Homo sapiens: one gene and its partners. The protein of the gene in region 2 purifies or fractionates together with the protein of the main gene of each other region. This does not show direct contact. Each region holds a gene or a part of one and is shown on either strand. Other genes may lie near its edges.

The links.
Region 1: the proteins of TYSND1 (region 2) and ECI2 purify together in Homo sapiens (co-immunoprecipitation; one study listed by IntAct). This does not show direct contact.
Region 3: the proteins of TYSND1 (region 2) and ANKRD40 purify together in Homo sapiens (affinity purification with mass spectrometry; 2 studies listed by BioGRID and IntAct, with this or other methods). This does not show direct contact.
Region 4: the proteins of TYSND1 (region 2) and P2RY1 purify together in Homo sapiens (co-immunoprecipitation; one large-scale study listed by IntAct). This does not show direct contact.
Region 5: the proteins of TYSND1 (region 2) and LONP2 purify together in Homo sapiens (co-immunoprecipitation; one study listed by IntAct). This does not show direct contact.
Region 6: the proteins of TYSND1 (region 2) and POLD3 purify together in Homo sapiens (tandem affinity purification; one large-scale study listed by IntAct). This does not show direct contact.

The regions. Positions count from the first base shown.
Region 1 is NC_000006.12:4,115,206-4,118,575, forward strand, and holds the end of ECI2 (enoyl-CoA delta isomerase 2), read right to left. Parts: intron 2,247-3,370; coding exon 2,103-2,246; intron 825-2,102; coding exon 669-824; 3' UTR 501-668; downstream 1-500. UniProt on the Homo sapiens protein: Able to isomerize both 3-cis and 3-trans double bonds into the 2-trans form in a range of enoyl-CoA species. Has a preference for 3-trans substrates.
Region 2 is NC_000010.11:70,140,591-70,143,700, forward strand, and holds part of TYSND1 (peroxisomal leader peptide-processing protease), read right to left. Parts: intron 2,264-3,110; coding exon 2,078-2,263; intron 1-2,077. UniProt on the Homo sapiens protein: Peroxisomal protease that mediates both the removal of the leader peptide from proteins containing a PTS2 target sequence and processes several PTS1-containing proteins.
Region 3 is NC_000017.11:50,697,915-50,701,414, forward strand, and holds part of ANKRD40 (ankyrin repeat domain-containing protein 40), read right to left. Parts: intron 2,803-3,500; coding exon 2,654-2,802; intron 1,980-2,653; coding exon 1,485-1,979; intron 1-1,484.
Region 4 is NC_000003.12:152,838,905-152,841,939, forward strand, and holds the end of P2RY1 (P2Y purinoceptor 1), read left to right. Parts: 3' UTR 1-2,535; downstream 2,536-3,035. UniProt on the Homo sapiens protein: Receptor for extracellular adenine nucleotides such as ADP. In platelets, binding to ADP leads to mobilization of intracellular calcium ions via activation of phospholipase C, a change in platelet shape, and ultimately platelet aggregation.
Region 5 is NC_000016.10:48,345,300-48,348,799, reverse strand, and holds part of LONP2 (lon protease homolog 2, peroxisomal), read right to left. Parts: exon of another isoform or gene 1,889-3,500; intron 1,294-1,888; coding exon 1,086-1,293; intron 701-1,085; coding exon 510-700; intron 1-509. UniProt on the Homo sapiens protein: ATP-dependent serine protease that mediates the selective degradation of misfolded and unassembled polypeptides in the peroxisomal matrix.
Region 6 is NC_000011.10:74,616,582-74,620,081, reverse strand, and holds part of POLD3 (DNA polymerase delta subunit 3), read right to left. Parts: intron 1,546-3,500; coding exon 1,278-1,545; intron 66-1,277; coding exon 1-65. UniProt on the Homo sapiens protein: Accessory component of both the DNA polymerase delta complex and the DNA polymerase zeta complex.

The DNA of each region.
Region 1 (3,370 bases), on a different chromosome or scaffold from region 2:
GGGATGCCTTTCATAAAGTACCACATTAAACAAGAATGGGACTCTAACAAATAAGAAAACAATTACTCATACAGAGCATTGCTTTCCAATGAAATGACCCAGTTTTCCCTTCATGCCTCTTTATTAAATTGTGCAAAAAAACCCAACTAAGATTCTTATTTGGGTTCTTATTCTTATTCTTGATTCTTATTTGTTTTCTAGTAATACTATTCCTTCCATTTTGCTCCCTTGCTACATGGCTGAAAAAGAACATGCAACCCACTGAAGACCTCAAGTCAGTGATCTGTAGGCTGTCAGCATTTGGCCCAATTCAGTCAGCCACTGTTTGTGGACGTCAAAGTGCTATAGTGGCATTCAAAGACATGACTTCAGCCTGTAATGCTGTGAGTGCTTTTCAAAGTAGGACCCCAGGCACCATGTTCCAGTGTTCCTGGCAACAACGATTCATGTCAAAAGACGTAAGACTCTCTACTACCAAACACCTGTGTGAATTCTTAAGCTTGTTTTACAAAACTTTTTATTCATCAGAGCTGTAGTGAAATATCATCATTGTAATTGATATTCTAGCACTACAAAAGGCACAATGAAGCTTATTTAGTTCCAGTACTGGAAATCAGAGGTAACAGCACATCCTTCCTTGGACATGCTTTACTCTGCTGTAGTGGTCATCACAGTTTTGATTTTCTGGATAAGAAGTTCACCACAGCATTTGTGCATTCATCTGATAGCCATCTTCCCTGAAGGACATTGCATTCTTCAGCATTAACAGCGTGTAGTTTTTCTCTCTCTCTTTTCCTGATTACCTCTTTTGAAATTCTCAAGGCCTGGAAAAACAAAACCAACAATAAGGTTAAGAGTTGACCTAGGCTGGACGTGGACTCATGCCTGTAATCCCAGCACTTGGGGAGGCCGAGGCGGGCAGATCAGTTGAGGTCAGGAGTTCAAGACCAGCCTGGCCAACATGGTGAAACCCCATCTCTACTAAAAATACAAAAATTAGCTGGTTGTGGTGGTACATGCCTGTGATCCCAGCTACTCAGGAGGCTGAGTCAAGAGAATTGCTTGAACCCGGGAGGCGGAGGTTGCAGTGAGCTGAGATCGCACCATTGCACTCCAGCCTGGGTGACAAGTGAGACTCTGTCTCAAAAAGAAAAAAAGAGTTAATCTAATAGGAGTGAGATTATTCTATGATTCTGGTTCTTGTTTCTCCCATGTTCATTTAATAAATCCTGTTAAATCTTTTTTTTTTTTCTGAGACATAGTCTCACTCTGTCGCCCAGGCTGGAGTGCAGTGGTGCAATCTTGGCTCATTGCAACCTCTGCCTCCCGGGTTCAAGCAATTCTCCCTGCCTCAGCATCCAGAGTAGCTGGGATTACAGGCGCCCACCACCACGCCTGGCTAATTTTTGTATTTTTTAAATAGAGATGTGGTTTTGCCATGTTGGCCAGGCTGTTCTTGAACTCCTGACCTCAGGTGATCTGCCCTTCTTGGCCTCCCAAAGTACTGAGACTACAGGTGTGAGCCACTGTTCTCGGCCCTAATGCTGTTAAATCTTAAGCTGCATGTGTAATATAAGACAGTGCTTCTCAAAATTCAGTGTGCATATAAATCGCTTCAGTAGGTGTGGGGCAGGCCTGTGATAATACATTTCCAAAAAGCCTCAGGTAGCTGCTCAAGCTTCTGGCTCCAGGACTACATTTTGAATAGCAAGAATATAAAAGCAATCAGTCACTCACTACCACATACAAAAACAAAAGTGCTATACAATAAGACTCTCAAAGTAGCTAATCCATGCTTCTCACCTGGATTCCAAAGTAAAAGTGCTCAGCAAATACTGCCTAGCATCCTGCTCAAGTAATCCCCATACAGAATTGCCCTCTGTCCCCACACAGAAATGGAAGGTCTATTTGATAAGTTTTGTAAAAATCAGTACTGCATTTCCAACATTACTACAGTTATTTTTTAATTCCAAATTTAGATGTGCTTAGAGGTAACTAAAGATGTGTCTTGTGCTTTTTATGACTTATTCTCTGAAGGCAAATAAATTTTTCCCTTAGGAAATCATTTTCAAGGTTCTTAGAAGTAAAAGATGAATACTAACATTTGGGGGAAGCTTTGCAAATGCCTTCAGCCTGGTCCAGACTTCTTTCTGAAAAGTGCTATCAGGGAAAACTTCAGTAACAAGTCCTTGAGCACATGCCTCTCCCGCTGTTAACTTCTTTCCAAAAATAAGCATCTCTGTTGCCTGAAATGAAAAGCAAGAAGCAAGGTTAAGATACTAACTTAATAAAACAAGGCTTCAGTTAACTGCTTTCAGGAGGCTTAGAGAGATGTACTCATGGTCTTTTGAGGTTGCTGGTATTTCTCAGTAAGGGAGAAGCTGATGACCTCAATAGGCAACGGTTTGCAAACTGTGTGCTGAGACAGGCTCCTGGGAAGGTCTATAAGGGCTGCTGCTTCTGTGTATCGTTGTTGGAGGGGCAAGATCAGGGGGTCCAGGGCAGAAATGATCTGAAGCAGATGCTTGATTCTATAACCCACAGCAGCTATGATTTTCCATTTGATACACTATAAACTATTATTTTACAGAGGAAAAAAGGAGAGAAAAATTACGGTCATTGGGTCAACCTTTAGAAACTTTCAAAATTCCATTCTCTGGAAACTACCCAGTGATCTGGCTCTGAGAGTTTTCTTTACCTGCATTGGTACTCAAATTAGTTCTATTTGACTAAAGGAAAGCAAAGACTTATAGTTAGCTTCCGAAAAAACTGAGGACATTAAGTGGATATCCTCTCTCCATTTGCAATTTCTTTTCCAGAAAAGGAATGCTCTTCTTTTTTTTGAGACAGAGTCTCACTGTGCTGCCCAGGCTGGAGTGCAGAGGCACGATCTTGGCTCACTGTAACCTCCACCTCCTGGGTTCAAATGATTCTCCTGCCTCAGCCTCTTGAGTAGCTGGGATTACAGGTGCCCGCCACCATGCCCCGGCTAATTTTTGTATTTTTAGTAGAGACAGCATTTCACTATGTTGGCCCGGCTGGTCTTGAACTCCTGATCTCAAGTGATCCACCAGCCTTGGCCTCCCAAAGTGCTGGGATTACAGGTGTGAGCCACTGCACCCAGCCAAGGAATGCTCTAATAGCCAAATGCTCTAAGACTTGTAGAGTCAGTTCTGCCCCCTTCCCAAGTTCAATTCAGGGTATGTGATAGCCTAATGAGAGTAAAAACATACATATATAAGTTTTTAACAAAATCCTAATAGGCAATGAAAACAAGCTCAATTCCCACTGCCCCACTTTGAGATCTTGCAGCAATATTTGCTAAGCCTTTTCCTATAGCTCAGCTTCTGGTCTTGTCACAATCCCCTTC
Region 2 (3,110 bases):
GCATGGATGTGTGTGTAGTTTTTTAAAGATAATTTCAGACATACAGAAGTCTTGCCTAAATATTGCAGAATTCTATATACCCTTTGACCAGCTTTCCTTTATGTTCGTATCTAATGTCACCAAAAAATATTTATCAAAACCAAAACATATACCTTGGTAGAATACTGTTATTAAGTGAACTACAGAACTCATTGACATGAGTTGCACTAGTTTTTCCACTAATGTCCTTTTTCAGTTCCAATATCCAGTCTAGGACTCCATATTCCATTTAGTTGTCGCATCTCCCAAATCTCCTCCAATCTGGGTCAGTTCCTCAGTCTTTCCTTATCTTTCGTGGCCTTGACATTTTTAAAAGTGCAGGTTATTTTATTTATTTACAGTTTTTTTTTTTGTTCTTGTTTTTGTTTTTTTAGAGGCAAGGTCTCGCTCTGTCACCCATGCTAGAGTGCAGTGGTGGGATTATAGCTCACTGCAACCTCAACCTCCTGGGCTCAAGTGATTCTCCCGCCTCAGCCTCCCTAAAATATTTTGTAGAGATGGGGCCTCACTATGGTTGTCCAGCTTGGTCTTGAACTCCCAGACTCAAGCAATCCTCCCGCCCTGGCCTCCAAAAGTGCTAGAATTACAAGTGCGAGCCACCATACCTGGCTTTTTTTTTTTTTTTTTTAAATAAACACTGTTTATTTTTTTGAGATGGGTCTCGCTCTGTCACACAGGCTAAAGTGTAATGGTGACCATAGTTCACTGCAGCCTTGAACTCCTGGGCTCAAGTGATCTTCCCACTTCAGATTCCTGCAGAGCCAGGACTACAGGCACATACCACCATGTCTGGCTCAGGTCAGTGATTTTAGAGAATGACCCTCAATTGAGGCCTACCTAATGTTTTCTCATGACTATTGGGTTGGTGCAAAAATGAATGCGGTTTTTGTCATTACTTTTAATTGTTTTGCCATTACTTTTAATTGTTTAAGGTTACACATTATTGGGAAGAATACCATAAAAGCCATGTGTCCTTCCCAGTGTCTCAGCTATCTGATGTCTGTATGGAGTACTTCTGACGTTCACCTTGATCACTTGGCTGAGGTGGTATCTGCCAGGCCTCTCCAAGGTAGACTTAGTATTTTCCTTTCTTTTTTTTTAATTAAAAAAAATTTTTTTAAATAAAAATAGAGGCAGAGTCTCACTATGTTGCCCAGGCTGGTCTCGAACTCCCATTTCAAGTGATCCTCTTGCCTCAGCCTCCGGAAGTGTTGGGATTACTGGCACGAGCTACCACACCAGGCCTAGACTTATGGCTCTAAATATTACTTACGGCTCCAATATTTCCTCTTTGTAAGTACTAAATATTTAGAGGAAATATACTAAAGTTATGCAAATACAATTTTACTTGTATACTAGGATGGAACAGATAAGTAAACATATTGTAGACAACAAGAGCAAGGTTTTTCACTACAGGAGAAAGAAGAAACAAGGAGAGTTAGACTGGACTGGAGTTGGAGGTTTCTAGATGAACTCATGTTTTTTTCTTTTTGACAGCTAAACAGACTGTTTTTTAAAAACCTGAATGTTACCAAAATTTAAAAATTGATCGATTTAACGGCCACATGTATTTTTTTAAAAAAGCTTTACATGTCTTGTGAAAATATTAGAATACCAGCCAACGTTAGGCCCATCCTCCTTCATGGCCACAGTCTGCAGCAGCTGAGTCGAGTGCGCTTCAGTTTAGACCCCTCCCCTCCCCTCCCTGTTGTCTTCTCATTCATTTGCTTTATCTTTCCAGCCTCTGTTGGCTTTTGAGTCTGTGACGCTTTGACTAATCCAACTCCTCAATTTCACAGATCAAACCAGATTAGATTAGTAGCAGAGAAGGGACCAGAGCCCAGATCTCTTTCCTCCCAGTCCAGCATCCGTCCCTCTCCACCATCAGGAGAACAGCCTGCAAACCTTCGCTAGCTCACTCATAATGCCCACCATTTTCCCAGACAGAGGGTGCACTGGGGCTGGCCACAAGCACTCATGGGGTGGGACTGAGGTTCTGGCAAGTGGGAGGGCGGGAGGGGGCCAAAGAGCTGGTTACCAAGGAGGTTTCCTGAGTGGTTGGAGAAGAGGGGTCCCCCACTGGAGCCGCTGTGCACAGCACACGTGGTCTGCAGCATTACGGGCGTGCCATTCACCTGCACCACAGCCGAAAGGATGCCTGAGGTCACCGAGGGCCCGCAAGACTGGCCAAAGACGCCAAAGCCCACCACACTCACAGCCTCGCCTGCCAGGGAAGGAAGGAGGGTGAAGCTGGGGACACCTGTGTTACAGCAGGACTCACACTCCCTAACTCCCATCCCTACCCTCTCCAAACATTCCAAACCTCTCCACCCTTCAAGTTTCTGCTCAGATACTCCTGCCTCCAGAGAGCCTTCCCCATGTCCCCTGGCTGGAAGAGGCTGAGAACTCCACTGAGCTCCTAGCACTGTATCTGCATGACCACTTCTGAGCAACAGGCTGTTCCCTAGTCCTTGTTCCCTGGACAGGCGGGGCAGTGACTTTTAGGAGTTCCTAACACCTACCTACATGCTCAATAAATGTTTGTGGAATTCACACCCATCTCCTCCTGGAACTCCTAAGAAGTCTCTTCGTGAAAAGAAATGGTGATGATGGCTATAATGCAGCCATGACCTTCCTTTTCCAAGTGCAGGGTATGGGGGTAAGTGCTTTACAGGCAACGTCACACCCAGCCCTCACAACACCCAGAAATAGGATGCATTAGCCCCATTTCAAAGACGTGGAAAATGAGGCAGAGGATAGTTAACTAGCCTGTCCAAGGACATGGGACTAATAGGTGGCATAGGAAAGATGCCCATCCAGAGCCCCTGGACCCTTCATCACTGTATCACACTGCCTCCATGGAGTGCAACATCAGTACTTATGTGGCAGCATCACAAAGCCTTTTACCCAAATCGTGCCCCTGGAGCCTTGAAAGTGCCACATGCCTCTCTGACCAGCCTGAAGTGTTAAGGAACCCCAAAGGCCCAGCATCCTCACACTACATTGCTGCAGGCACTCGGGGAAAGGGCGTGCAGCATTATCCTTCCCAGGGCACTCCATGTGCCCCACCA
Region 3 (3,500 bases), on a different chromosome or scaffold from region 2:
CCCTATGGCATTTGACTGGATTTGGAAGAATCAGGATGAACTTGTGGTTTTTAATATTTTTAAAAAGTTATACATAGAGAAATATTGATATCTTTCCTGGCTATGTCCTCTCAACGGGCCTAGAAGAAATGATATACCTGTAGCAATGAGGACACCTAGTGACCACATCCTGGTGTCTGAATACCATTCTCGGTGGGCCCAAGTGGGAGGCAAGTTTGCTGTGTGCCCTAAATACCATTCTCCACCAAAAAGAACCAGGGCTTCTTGGAGAAATGACTGATTCCAGGGTTGGGGCAGGAAAAGTTATGCTATAAGCCCGGAACATCTTGCTGCCCCAGAAAGTAAGGCAGTGCTCCAAGAACAATGAAGACACATGCAAGGGACATAAGAACTAGCTTCAAGGGGCTCCCACTGGCCAAATCTGGGATAATTTGAATAATTAAAAAATGATAGTAACAGATTATAACCCACTGAATAAAATAAGAATATATGAGTCAATACTGATATGAATGAAGGAGAAGGGAAAGCCCTTCTTTACAGTAAAATACCAACTAATAAGTAGAGAAAGAATGATAGAAAATCATATCCCACAAAAATAATTGGCCTGGACTCTTCAAAAAGATCAAGATCAAAAATGATAAAGGGTAAAGATTCCAGATTAAAGGAAACTAAAACAACGTGATAACTACATGCAACATATGATCCTGGGCAGGATGCAGGGGGCAGAGGAGTACAGATAGTCCAGATAGATATCAATAGTACAGATAGTACTATTTCTGTAATAGTACAGACAGTACGTATAGTAGATGAGGGAATACAAAAGGCAATGTTTGAGACAACTGACAAAATTTAAACATGGTCTATGGATTACAGAACAGCATTAGCTCAAGATTACATTTCTCAAATTTGGTCATTTGTACTGTAGTTATATAAGAGAATATCCAGCTGGGTGCGGTGATTCACACCTATAATCTCAGCACTTTGGGAGGCTGAGGCAGGCAGATCACTTAAGGTCAGGAGTTTGAGACCAGCCTGGCCAACATGGTGAAACCCCATCTCTACTAAAAATACAAAAAAAAAAAAAAAAAAAAAAAATTAGCCAGGCGTGGTGGCATGCTCCTGTAATCTCAGCTACTTGGGAGGCTGAGGCAGAAGAATCACTTGAACCTGGGAGGCGGAGGTTGCAGTGAGCCAAGATCACACCACTGTACTCCAGCCTGGGTGACAGGGCGAAGCTACGTCTCAATAAAAAAAAGAGAGAATATCCTTGTTCTTAGGAAAGATATAATGGAAAGAATACTGAAGGGTATCAGGGTAAAAGGGCAAAAGGTAAACAATTTGTGAATTTGAGTAAAGGGAGTTCCTTATGTTAGTCATGTAACGTTTCTGTAAGTTTGCAATTATACCCAGAATACCTCATTAAATCCCACCCCTCTGGACACCAACTCCCCTGTTGCAGAGGCTGTTTGCTGATGAGGGGTTACCTTGCATATTAAATGGAAATGCTCCAGTGAAGAAAAATGGCTGGAATGCTGGCGCTGGTCCTGCATACGTCCCATTTTGAGGCTCCAGAGACATTGGTGGCTTGGACGGGACAGAAGAAAACAGGGAGCGGCTCTGACTCACTGGTGGCTGACAAACAGGACCCGGTTTTGTGCTTTCTGGTGTTCTGAGTATGGCAGAGGGGGCCGACACATCACCATTCTGAACTAGTGCCAAAGAGGTGTGGTCCCGGGGAAAGGTCCCTAACAGGGGAGGTTCCCCAGGGGGAAGCAATGGAGGTGAGCCATCTGCAGGGGGTGATGCAGGGGGTGTGGAGGGGCCCCCATTCTGCATCTGGGCTGAATCCTCTGCTGTGGGTGTATAGATAAAAGGGAAGGCTGGGTTGGCCAAATAGTTGGGAACAAAGGGCAGTTCTGACTCCTTCTTCAGCTGGGGGAGGTTGTCATCATCATCATCATCATCATCTTCTTCTTCCACTTAAAAAGAAGAAAACAGAACATTTACACAGTCCTTTCAAAATTATCAAAACAAGGTGTCTTTTGAAAGTGGTGTCTTTTGGTATGTGACATTGGTCAGTGTCAGGTCAGAAGAAAAAAGAATACTTCATTAGGTTTATGATTACCATTTTTATCATTATCTTAAATTTTACAAATAAAAAAATAAAACCTTACAATGCTGACCTCCCCAGAAACAATCTGGAATTACTATCTTGGCACAGTAATTTGCTTTTAGAAATAGAACAGTTGCCGGGAGCGGTGCCTCATGCCTGTAATCCCAGCACTTTGGGAGGCTGAGGCTGGCGGATCACCTGAGGTCGGGAGTTTGAGACCAGCCTGACCAACATGGTGAAACCCCGTCTCTACTAAAAATACAAAATTAGCGAGACGTGGTGGCACATGCCTGTAATCCTAGCTACTTGGGAGGCTGAGGCAGGAGAATCACTTGAACCTGGGAGGCAGAGGTTGTGGTGAGCCGAGATCACGCCACTGCACTCCAGCCTGGGCAACAAGAGCTAAACTCCGTCTCGGAAAAAAAAAAAAAAAGAAAGAAATAGAGCAGTTGTTTGACCAGCATTAAGAACGTAGCCAATAATACCACAAGTCTTCAATGAGTCTGAGGAAATCAAAAGTTCCCCCAAACACAGACTCACCTCCCATAATCTTCCTGATTTCTCTCCTTGATGTTAACTGGACTGGCATTTCTCCTTTTGTGGTAAGAATTTCTTTGTCAGCTCCTGATTTTAACAGGTAAGAGACCACCTGACCATGGTTTCGTTTACATGCCCAGTGTAAACAAGTCCTGTACCAAAGAAAATAATGATTGAAAAAGAGGAGAAGTGATTTTGGATTTCAGATTCTAAACATTAGTAAATAATGTATAAACAAGCCTGTTAGAGTTCAGCTAGAACCAGGTAACCGGGCTGGTAATCTCAACTTTTCACAAAGCCGATGAGCAAAATATTTAATATGCTTAAATTTTGTTTTTAAATTTCATTTCTGGCTCCTGAGAAAAACTAACTTAACCTAGGAGTTTTAATTTCAATAGCCTCCAGAAGGTAAGCTCACTGGCTGGCTAACTCCAATGATACCGTGGAATATACTCTATCAGTATCGCTCATTAGATCATCTCAGTCTCTGAAACATATTTTTCTATTGCTATATTCCTTTTCAGGGACTATGGAAACTCACTTCATATGCCACCTGAAGATTCAATATTATCAGGATAATAACCATCTCCTATCAGCAGCTTGCTCTGTCACTTAAATTATTATTATGACAGCAGATATTCTTGCCTGAATCCCAGTTGCTCACTTTCTTTTTCCTTCTTACTTTTCTTTCCTTAACACACACACAAAGGATTTCCAAATTTCCATTTTTAAAAAGTTGGCTTCTCTAGTTCTCTCCAGAAGGCTACAAACATATCCTCATCTGCGTAAATGTAAGGCACTGCACACATACTTTAATTCCTGAGGTACTTAAAAAATATACATCAACAAC
Region 4 (3,035 bases), on a different chromosome or scaffold from region 2:
CATTACTTTATTGACCTTGTTAAACAAGATCAATATCATTAAACTGACCAAGATGGAAATTACAGGACTTGTACCAGACTTGAACTTGTAGCCTAATGATACACATTTTTACAATATTTCTTCACCATTTAGTTTTCTTTCTTTTAGGTCTCAGGATGCTCAGCTTAATTTAGAGTATGTGTTAAGTACATTGTTTCAGCGTCCAGAGAATTTTGTGAGTGTGGATCCAGTGAGGAGGTGAACAGTAACTAGAAATGCTTGTTTACTACTTGGCATGTTTTTTCCAAAGTGTTTCTTCTTTAGCTTCATACATCACATATGGACACTGATGACATGTGAATGCATGCCACATAGTAACAAGAATGATCTTGCCAACTCCTTCCAAGCCAAAAGAAGCCTCTGGGAAGGTGTGCCAATGGTGAAAACGTACAGAGGGTCAGGGTGAAGCAGTGATCTCTATTGGCTGAAAAACTGATCAGGTCATATGATGATTGAAGTATGTTTATTGTAAGGGCAGAAATGTGTTGGCATTTGGATAAAAAACTGCTAACATTATAGAACTTATTACCTAACAAAATTTCACACCACAAAAAATATTTTAATGGCAAATTCAAGGTGTTTTATTGCTTACAAATCAGCATCTTTGACTCTTTGAACATCAATTTGTGTTTACATTGAAATGACAAAAAGACAAACTAAGAAGAAATACAGCATGCAAGTTGGAATTCAGAGTTAAAACCATGATGTTGCCGCTCAGCCAGCTATGTGACTGTTGACCCTTTCAAGAACACACATGGATTTAAAAGTTGGATGACATCCATTGTTGGGGCCTTGGGGGATATGGTAAAGCATGAAAACTAAACAGCCAGGAGCCTGTGAAATCTGCTACTGTATTTTCCAGGACTTCATTCCACTCCTTGGCTAAAAAAATCTTGGAAGTTTCACAGATTATGATGTGGACCTGTCACCTGTAAATTGTCTCAATCTACTCAGACAAGACACTAAACTGTCTTTGGATACTATAGATGTCAGTGCTTATAGCAGCTGGAATTTGGCTAGTGACAATGTTTAAAGATGTAATACTAGTTAGTATCTATTGAAGCTTAAACTTTGCTGGTCAGGTTGTAGCTATTGTAAAAGTATTTATTGAAGAAGCTCACAGTCCTTCAGTTGTACAGACTGAAAAACTTTCATGAAAGATCCAACATACTAATGTAAATTATATTTATTACAATGTATGATATTAATGTGTCAAACTGGTGTATTTTACAAAATATATAATGCATACATAAATAAGAGTTGTATATTACAGTGCTTTTCAAATATCAGTGTCTTGGAATATTTAAGTCTTCACATTTTTTGGTCTAAAATATGAAAATGTTTCATGATACAAGTGATTAATTTTCCCTAGTAGTGCTTTTGCATGTTTGCCTTTTTATTTAAGTTTTTTTCTATATAGACACAATTTGGTGTCAGACTATCATAAGATCGATAGTGAATATAAAATATCTTAGCCAAATGGGGTCTGTATTGTCTACATTTTATATATTAAATAAAAGTTTTTGTTGTCTTTTCAGGAGGTTTAGAGTATTGTCACTAAATATGATCAAAGCTTCCCTTTCCAAATGCAAAAGTCTTGTCCTACATTTAAAGTTGATCTGTCATGTTTTAGCAGTCAAGTGGGATGGGCATTATATAAACAACGTTACAATGTAAGGAAAATCTTTAAGGAGATGGGGAGAGAAAAAGGCAGCTGGTATAATCGGTTACTGCTGCTTAGTTCTACTTAATTTTTTGTGTTGCTTCTTCTTAAGGTGAGATAGCATAATCTTAACTGTTTTGAGATGGAATTTTAAAGTAACACACTACCAGCGAGTTCAACACTGCTATTGATTTTAATCTGTTTTTTTTTGTTTAGTTGATAACTTAAATTCCAAGTTTCATAGTGATAATTGTATATTATTTGGCTGCTGAATTCTGTTAGAGTTTTTTATTCTGTTGTACATTGTATTATACACATAATCACAAATTAATATGAAGGTGAATATATGTTACATATCAAAATTTGTGAATTTGAATTATAGTATGTTTTAGTGCTATTGCAAAAAATGTTTATTTTTATATTATCTGTGATTTTAATATAGATGATTGAACTAGATTTCTTTTTGAGTGATAGTGCCATTGAATGAGCAGTATGGAAACAGTGTTACTTGATATTTTGAGCTTTCTCAGGTTTATCTAAATCAGTGGTAGCTTAACAAAACCCAGACTAATTGTGTGTAATTGTATTTTTAATAAAAGGAAAGTACATTTCCTATAATAGCATAGTACTGTTTGCATGTAAGAGTATGCAAAACCTTGTGTGTGTGTGTGTGTGTGTGTGTGTGTGTGTGTCTTAGTGTGTGTAAGGCATGGCAGCCAACTTTGTATCTGCTATTTTTAGTACGAGCAGAGCTTCATAATTGTGGTCACTAGAACTGTACTTACCATGGACAGTTAAAACTGAAAAAGACTCAATAAAACTATGAAACATGGTTTGATGGCTTCTATGTTATTACAGTGTTAATACTCACAAGTTTTGCCAAACTTTAACAAATAATGTACAGACTGAGAAGTACTGTAAAACACATTGAACTAATTCAGTTGTTTTTTAAGGTGAAGACTGGGCTCTAAAAACTACGGTGTTAAAGGTAGAATCCTGGTGCAAGATAGGTAAAATTATCAATATTTGATATTCAATTGCCAATAGGAATGTGAGCTAATTTTTTATTGTAAAATACTTCATGCTACCTTAATGTGTGCTTCTCATACTGGTGTTCTGTGTTTAAAATGTTGGCTGTAATTTTTTCTCATCTAATTTTTAATCAGGGTAACCACGCTAATAATTCTTTGTGGATTCTATTTATTAGCATACATCACCTGCTTTTTCCAGGTTTGTTAAAAAATGTATTGTGCCACAGTGAAAATGGTGTACAATGAAATGGGAGCATGCTTAAAGCATTACCTTTTTTTTTACCTCAGTTGAGAAGGTAAGT
Region 5 (3,500 bases), on a different chromosome or scaffold from region 2:
AACGTGGGCTGAATGTGGTGGCTCACGCCTGTAATCCCAGCACTTTGGGAGGTGGAGATGAGAGGACTGCATGAGACCTGGAGTTTGAGACAAGCCTGGACAACACAGAGAGACCCTGTCTCTACGCAAAATAAAATAAATTAGCTGAGCATGGTGGCGTGCTCCTATAGTCCCAGCTATTCGGGAGATAGACAGGAGGATCGCTTGAGCCCAGGACTTGGTGGCTATAGTGAGCTACAGTCACACCACTGCACTCCAGCCTGGGCAACAGAGTGAGACCTGTCTATTTCAAAAAAAAAAAAAAAAAAAAAAGGAAAATGTGAAAAATTGTCAGTTTTTCTTTTATTTGATCAAAATTTTAAAATATGAATTAGTTACAGGCATAAAAATATAATATATACTTAAAACCAAGGTTTTCATAGAAAGAAGGCAAACCCGTATTTAAAAATAATATTAATTTTCAAAAATTAAATAAAAAATAACCATATAAATTGTTTTTTCATACTTACTGGAAGAACAAGACCTCTCAGTGTAATTTCTCCAGTCATGGCTACATCTGAACGTACCAGCCGCCCACTAAAAAGTGAGGCGAGACAGGTTACTATGGTAACTCCAGCAGATGGTCCATCTTTTGTGACAGCTCCAGCTGGGAAGTGCAGATGGATGTCTGTGTTGTCAAGAAGATCAAAACTTCCAAAAGCTTTAAAAAGGAAAAAGGGACTTTAATGTAGAAAAATTAAACCTGTTTTCTTTTTCTCCTAAAAAAAAAGTCACAAACAAAAATGAATGTTTTGGGTAAATGAATTCTTCAAAATATTGGTGGACAGTACAATTTGGGTGAGGGTGTGGAAGAACAGTTCCATTCTACTCTAAGTCGTATTAAAACAAAATAAACCTTTTGAATTAGTTTCTAGTTCAGGCACTAGTCAAATAGTCCTGAAATGGGAACTAGGATTTCCACAGGGGTTCAAAACGGTGTGTACTTTGCTAGATGTGTAACTGGCAGTCTCGAGCTCATGCCAGTCTCCGCCATGGAAGGTACCGCCTCCTGGGTCACGCCTGCCTGGCCGGGTGCAGGCTCCTACCATTGGTCAGCTGGTACTTCTTTGCGTTGCTGCGGAGCCAGCTGATAGCGAGGTGGGCGGACTCCTTCATCACGTCCCCGAGCTGGCCGGTCAGAGTTAACTGGCCCTCGCCATCCATTCGACTCGCCTCCACGAACATGATTTCTCCACCTAAGGGAGTCCAAGCCAAACCTATTGCTACTCCTGGCTGACTCAAACGCTGAGATACCTTGAAAGAAGAAGAATGATCAGAGTTGGGTTGGCAAATGCTAAAGGTGACTGATACCACACAATCCTGCAAGAGTCGGCTGACTCCACAGAAGACTTCAGCCACTTACCTCAAAGTCCTTGTTACCTAACATGATTCTGCGTCACATTCAGCACTTACTCTCTGGCTTTCTGCCAGAAGAAAGACCTAAACTTCCTCTTTGACATTTATCAGAGGCAATTTTACCTTAAAATATATGTAAATAACTTTGCTTTTTATGAGCCAGATCTAGCTACACATGCCCTAGTTTTCAAGGAATAAACCCAATAGTTTTATCTAAGTATCTTTATTGGGCTGCAAATATATATATATTTTGAGACAGTCTCACTCCATTGCCCAGGCTTGAAGTACAGTGACACAATTTCAGCTCACTGAAAACTCTGCCTCCTGGCTTCAAGTGATTCTCCTGCCTCTGCCTCCCAAGTGGCTGGTACTATGGGCGCACACAGGCCACCACACCCGCTAATTTTTGTATTTTTTGTAGAGATGTGGTCTCACCATGTTGGCCAGACTGGTCTCAAACTCCTGACCTCAAGTGATCTGCCTGCCTCAGCCTCCCAAAGTGCTGGGATTACAGGTGTGAGCCACCACACCCAGCCTATTGGGCTGCATATTTATATATACTTCATAACCTAGCTTCATTTTAGGTAATCATGAATTTGTTTCAAAAAGTAGAAACCCTCTTACTAGCAGACCTTTAAGAAGAGTGAGCTTGGCCATGCAGAGTGGCTCATGCCTGTAATCCTAGCACTTTGGGAGGCTGAGACGACAGGATCGCTTGAGCCCAGGAGTTCGATAGAGACCAGTGTGGGCAACATGGTGAGACCCTCTTATTTTTTTTGAAAAGAAAAGTGAGAAGGGTTATATTAGAAACTCTAGATTTTACTTCTCCACCGCTTACCTTTAACTTTCTCTATTACTGCTGCAGAGACTATACAATACTACATAATAAACATCCTGGGTTCCTTCCCATGGGATGAGAGAGGTCCACTGTACTGCCTGCCATCTTAAATTGAACATGTTGTCACCTGAGACTAGGAGCATAGTTGATGGGCCATAGGTTAACACATCCAAGTTATGAAAACACTAAAAAGTAACAGTGGAAAATCAGTAATGTTAACTCTCATTACACCCTTTGAGCTTCAAAATTTCCTATCCAATAGAAGTTACTCATGTTAGAGGAACTGAACACAATAGGTCAACTAAGCACTAATCCAAACAGGAGATTTTTCTACTGAGAGTTGACCGTCTCACTAAGGAACAGCACTATACAGCTTGACTTTCTGGGTATGGGGCTGGGTTGCTTCTTTTTCTAAGGGGCTTGGACAATGAAATTCCTGATTGTAAAAATTATTCCAAAATTATGTGGCATCCATTGAAGCTATTGGGCACTTCTTTTCCTCTTTTTTTTTTTTTTTTTTTTGAGACATGAGTCTCACTCTGTCGCCTGGGCTGGAGTGCAATGGCACAATCTTGGCTCAATGCAACCTCCGCCTCCTGGGTTCAAGCAGTTCTCCTGCCTCAGGCTCCGAGTAGCTGGGATTACAGGCATGTATCACCACACCCAGCTAATTTTTGTATTTTTAATAGAGACAGTGTTTCGCCATGTTGGCCAGGCTGGTCTCAAACTCCTGACTTCAGGTGATCTGCCAGCCTCGGCCTCCCAAAGTGCTGGGATTACAGGCGTGAGCCTCTGCGTCTGGCCGAGCACTTATTTTCAGTAGTAAACATACATTAAAAAAAATTAATCCTAATTAACTTCATTTAACAGGTTAGAGATTTGAGAGGCCAAACTCCAGCATCAAGCTGACAGCATGTACCTCAGGTCACACTTTCCTCGAGCTTTGCCACTTGCCCTGTTCTATACTAACTTGAGGCGAAAGACACAAACGATCTATATGTAAGAGATCAGTACTACTTAAGGAAAATCATGAAACAGTTATTTATAAAACTGTTTACAAGGTTTGTTTTTTCTAATATAAAATCAATTCTCTATACCTGAATGACATACATCTAATTTGTGTGGGAATCTGTCACCCAAATTAGACTTCATTCAGGCTCCTTTCTAGGGTTGGGTGAATGAATCGTGTTTAACACAAAAAGTCATTTGGTACAATTTTGTTAACTCTACCAAGAATAATCCCTTTCTTATATTTGAATCCTCACAA
Region 6 (3,500 bases), on a different chromosome or scaffold from region 2:
GCTTTTCCAAAAAAGTTGCTCATCATATTCCCTTTCCCTGGTGCCTTGTTGCCTGCTGCAGATGCCTACAAGCACAGAAAACACATATGATTTTTTGCTGGCATTTAGGCTGTTCATGAAGTAGCAGTCTCAAACAAACTCTTCTATAGCAAACTGTTGCGATGGTATAGTCTCTATATAATCATGCCAAAACGCGTAGGTGTTAGATATAAGAACAAATCTAGAACAATAATCCACACCAGACAGTAACTGGTGTTAATCTCTAAAGCTTAGTTTCTTATATATCTTATAAAATTAATTATCCATGGATATAGCTAAACTTTTCTTGAGCACATTTAAAAACTATTTAATTTGACAGAATTAAAAAAGATCAGAGGCAGTATGTACACAAAGCGGGAAAACCTAAAACATTACATTTTTAATCATCAGAAGTAGATCTGAATTCCTGGTTCCCACCATTTAGTAGCAATATGGGCTCCAGGCAAATTACTTAAGTCTAGGTTTCAGTTTTACCATATGCGAAAGGGAAATAGTTAATATCTCCCTCACAGAACTGATAAGAGGATTTAAACAAAGACACTGGCACACAGTTGAAATTCAATAAACGTTAGTGTTTTCCTCCATCCTTCTTCTTTCCCAAGACAGACGCTTGAAAATGACAGTGATCTGAATTAAATACACTTGACACTGGAAAATGACAGTGATAATAATAATAGTAACAACAATAATTATGCTTTTCTGGATTTTTAAAATAGTATCTTAATGATACTTTTCTTAAGTCAATGCCCTTGAGTTAGTTCAGATGACTGAACAATAAAAATCTAAGAGAAGCAAATAAGGCAAAAACAAAACAAAAAAACCTGCATAAAGTATAAGAATGGGAAATACACTAGGAAGGAAGGTATATGTTGCAAAGCCCAGAATATAAGATGTTCCTCAGAAAGACATATTGCAAATAAACATTTTTTTGAATGTCAACAATTCTCGAGGTGTTTTCACATGTTTTCATCTGGGTTTCACAACAATCTTGTAATGTGCACAAGGTAGGCATTACCATTTTGCAAAGGAAATCCAAGGTTTGGTGAGAATCATTATCAAAAGCAAAAGAACTCTTTCAGATAACAATATCAAGTATTAAAGGGTTCAAACTAAAGTAGAAAAATCAGAACTGAATATCAGAATCTTATATAAATAAACTACTACCACTGCAACCATTAATGCTTTTCTAGTTACCCACTCTGAGCTGCAATGAAGGGGTATCTTCAAAGAAGACTTACATTTGTTACTTCTTTAGCCTCTGTTTTCGTTTCCTTGTTGGTTTCTTGGGTTTTAGCAGCAGCTTTGGAGGCAAACATTCCCATAATTCCTTTGGGCTGCTGGGAAACCTGCTTGGATGCAGGTGGGCCATGACCATTGGTGGTCAGCTCATTGTTGGCTTGTGTCTCACTTGACATGTGAAGATGTGACTGCTCAAACTTTTTGGAAGACGAAGAGGATTCAGCAGGAGCTCTAGGGACGGCAGCTGCACATTGTATAGCACTAAATCTGGGGACAGAAATGTTACATTAAGTTAATGTCAGCATATGCATTCTTGGGTGGTTCAACAAAAAAAGAAAAAAAAAACTAATGTCAGTATAAAACTTTATTTTCAAACTCTTGCTTCTTCCACACAATACTTAACTCTAATATTGTTTAGAATCGACTTTAGAAAAATGTATGAAACTCTCTATTACATAAAGAAACAAATATTAGAGAGAAGTGAGTCACTTTTACTAGGTTATACATCTAGTTAGTAATAGATAGGATTGGAATTAGGTGCCTTCTACCACTAATTGAATATTCTTGTTTTTGATAAAAGTATTCTAATTCAAAAGAGTAGGAATGCAACCAACAATAATAAAAGATGCAGTAATTTCATTATCCTTGGGAAATGAAATAGCCTTTGTTTTTAAAGACCTTCCTCTGATAGGGCTAGATTTGCAATATTGACTGAATCAAAACTAAGCTTTAAATATTAACAAATTTCCTGGCAACTCTCTTGGCCAGAGTAAATCATGCTGTAGGGTTGGGCGCATTGGCTCACGCTTGTAATCCCAGCGGTTTGGGAACCTGAGGCGGGCGGATCGCTTAAGCCTAGGAATTTAAGATGGGCCTGGGCAACATGGTGAAACCTTGTCTCTACAAAAAATACAAAAATTAGTTGGGTGTAGTGGCGCATGCCTATAGCCCTGATTACTCAGGAGGCTGAGGTAGGAGGATCACCTGAATCCAGGAGGTCAAGGCTGCAGTGAGCCATGAGCTCATCACTCAACTCCAGCCTAGGAACAGAGTGAGATGCTGTCTCAAAATAAATAAATAAATCATGCTTTAAAACAAAGAAGAGGCCAGGTGCAGTGGCTCACGCCTGTAATCCCAGCACTTTGGGAGGCCAAGGCAGGTGGATCATGAGGTCAGGAGTTCAAGACCAGCCTGGCCAACATGGTGAAACCCCGTCTCTACTGAAAATACAAAAATTAGCTGGGCGTGGTGGCACGCGCCTGTAGTCCCAGCTACTCAGGAGGCTGAGGCAAGAGAATTGCTTGAACCCAGGAGGCAGAGGTTGCAGTGAGCCAAGATCACACTACTGCGCTCCAGCCTAGGCGACACAGCAATACTCTGTCTCAAAATGAAAAACAAAAAAAAATGGGAGAAGCTGGAAGCAGAGCCACTGGCTCCTATAACCTATAGTCCTTTACAGCCATTTGTTAATAATTTCTAATAATACTAACAGCACCGGACAAGTAAGTATGCCCAAGGCCAAGAGAAGAAAATTGGTGGAACAGCTTGTGTGGCATATTAAAGGGAACATACATCTCTCTCTAATCATTATAGAAGTGCCGTTTCACACAAATCCATAATGTAACATTCCACATTGTGAATGGGTAATTGATTTAGCCTTCTCAAAGGATTGTACTTAAAGCAAAGTTCCCCAGCTTTTTCTAACAAAGAAAAATATTTTATTTTTCCCAGTCTTGCTTATTGAGCATATGTAAGACCTCCTTGAAGTCTTATTTATCTTTTTTATTTCAGGCACCCAGCTCAAGACCTGGCACATAGAAAAGTGCTGGAAACGACATGTTGAAAGAATGACTAAGTGAATGAAAGTGAGGCTTCTGGCTTCTCTCCCTTCTTTAGTGTATCACCTTCAACTTGGGGTGGGAGATTTCTAAACTATGTGGTGATGGCAATTATCTTAAAAGATCAACCAGGCACAACTTCAAGATTAACTGCTAGAATACCTGGCCTAATGAAAAAAAAAAATCCCTGATACATCATTTCATCTCAGAAGTAACTTTAGACTGGGCAGCCCCAAAGCTAGAGTCAAAAGCTCCAAAAATCTTCCACTGATTTATTATGGTCTTCATCAGAAAACTCTGTATTTACACACATCTTTTATGCATCAGAGTTAAGAACAGACGGAAATCATTTGCTTTCACCCACTGCTCTTCCTCTCTGACCTT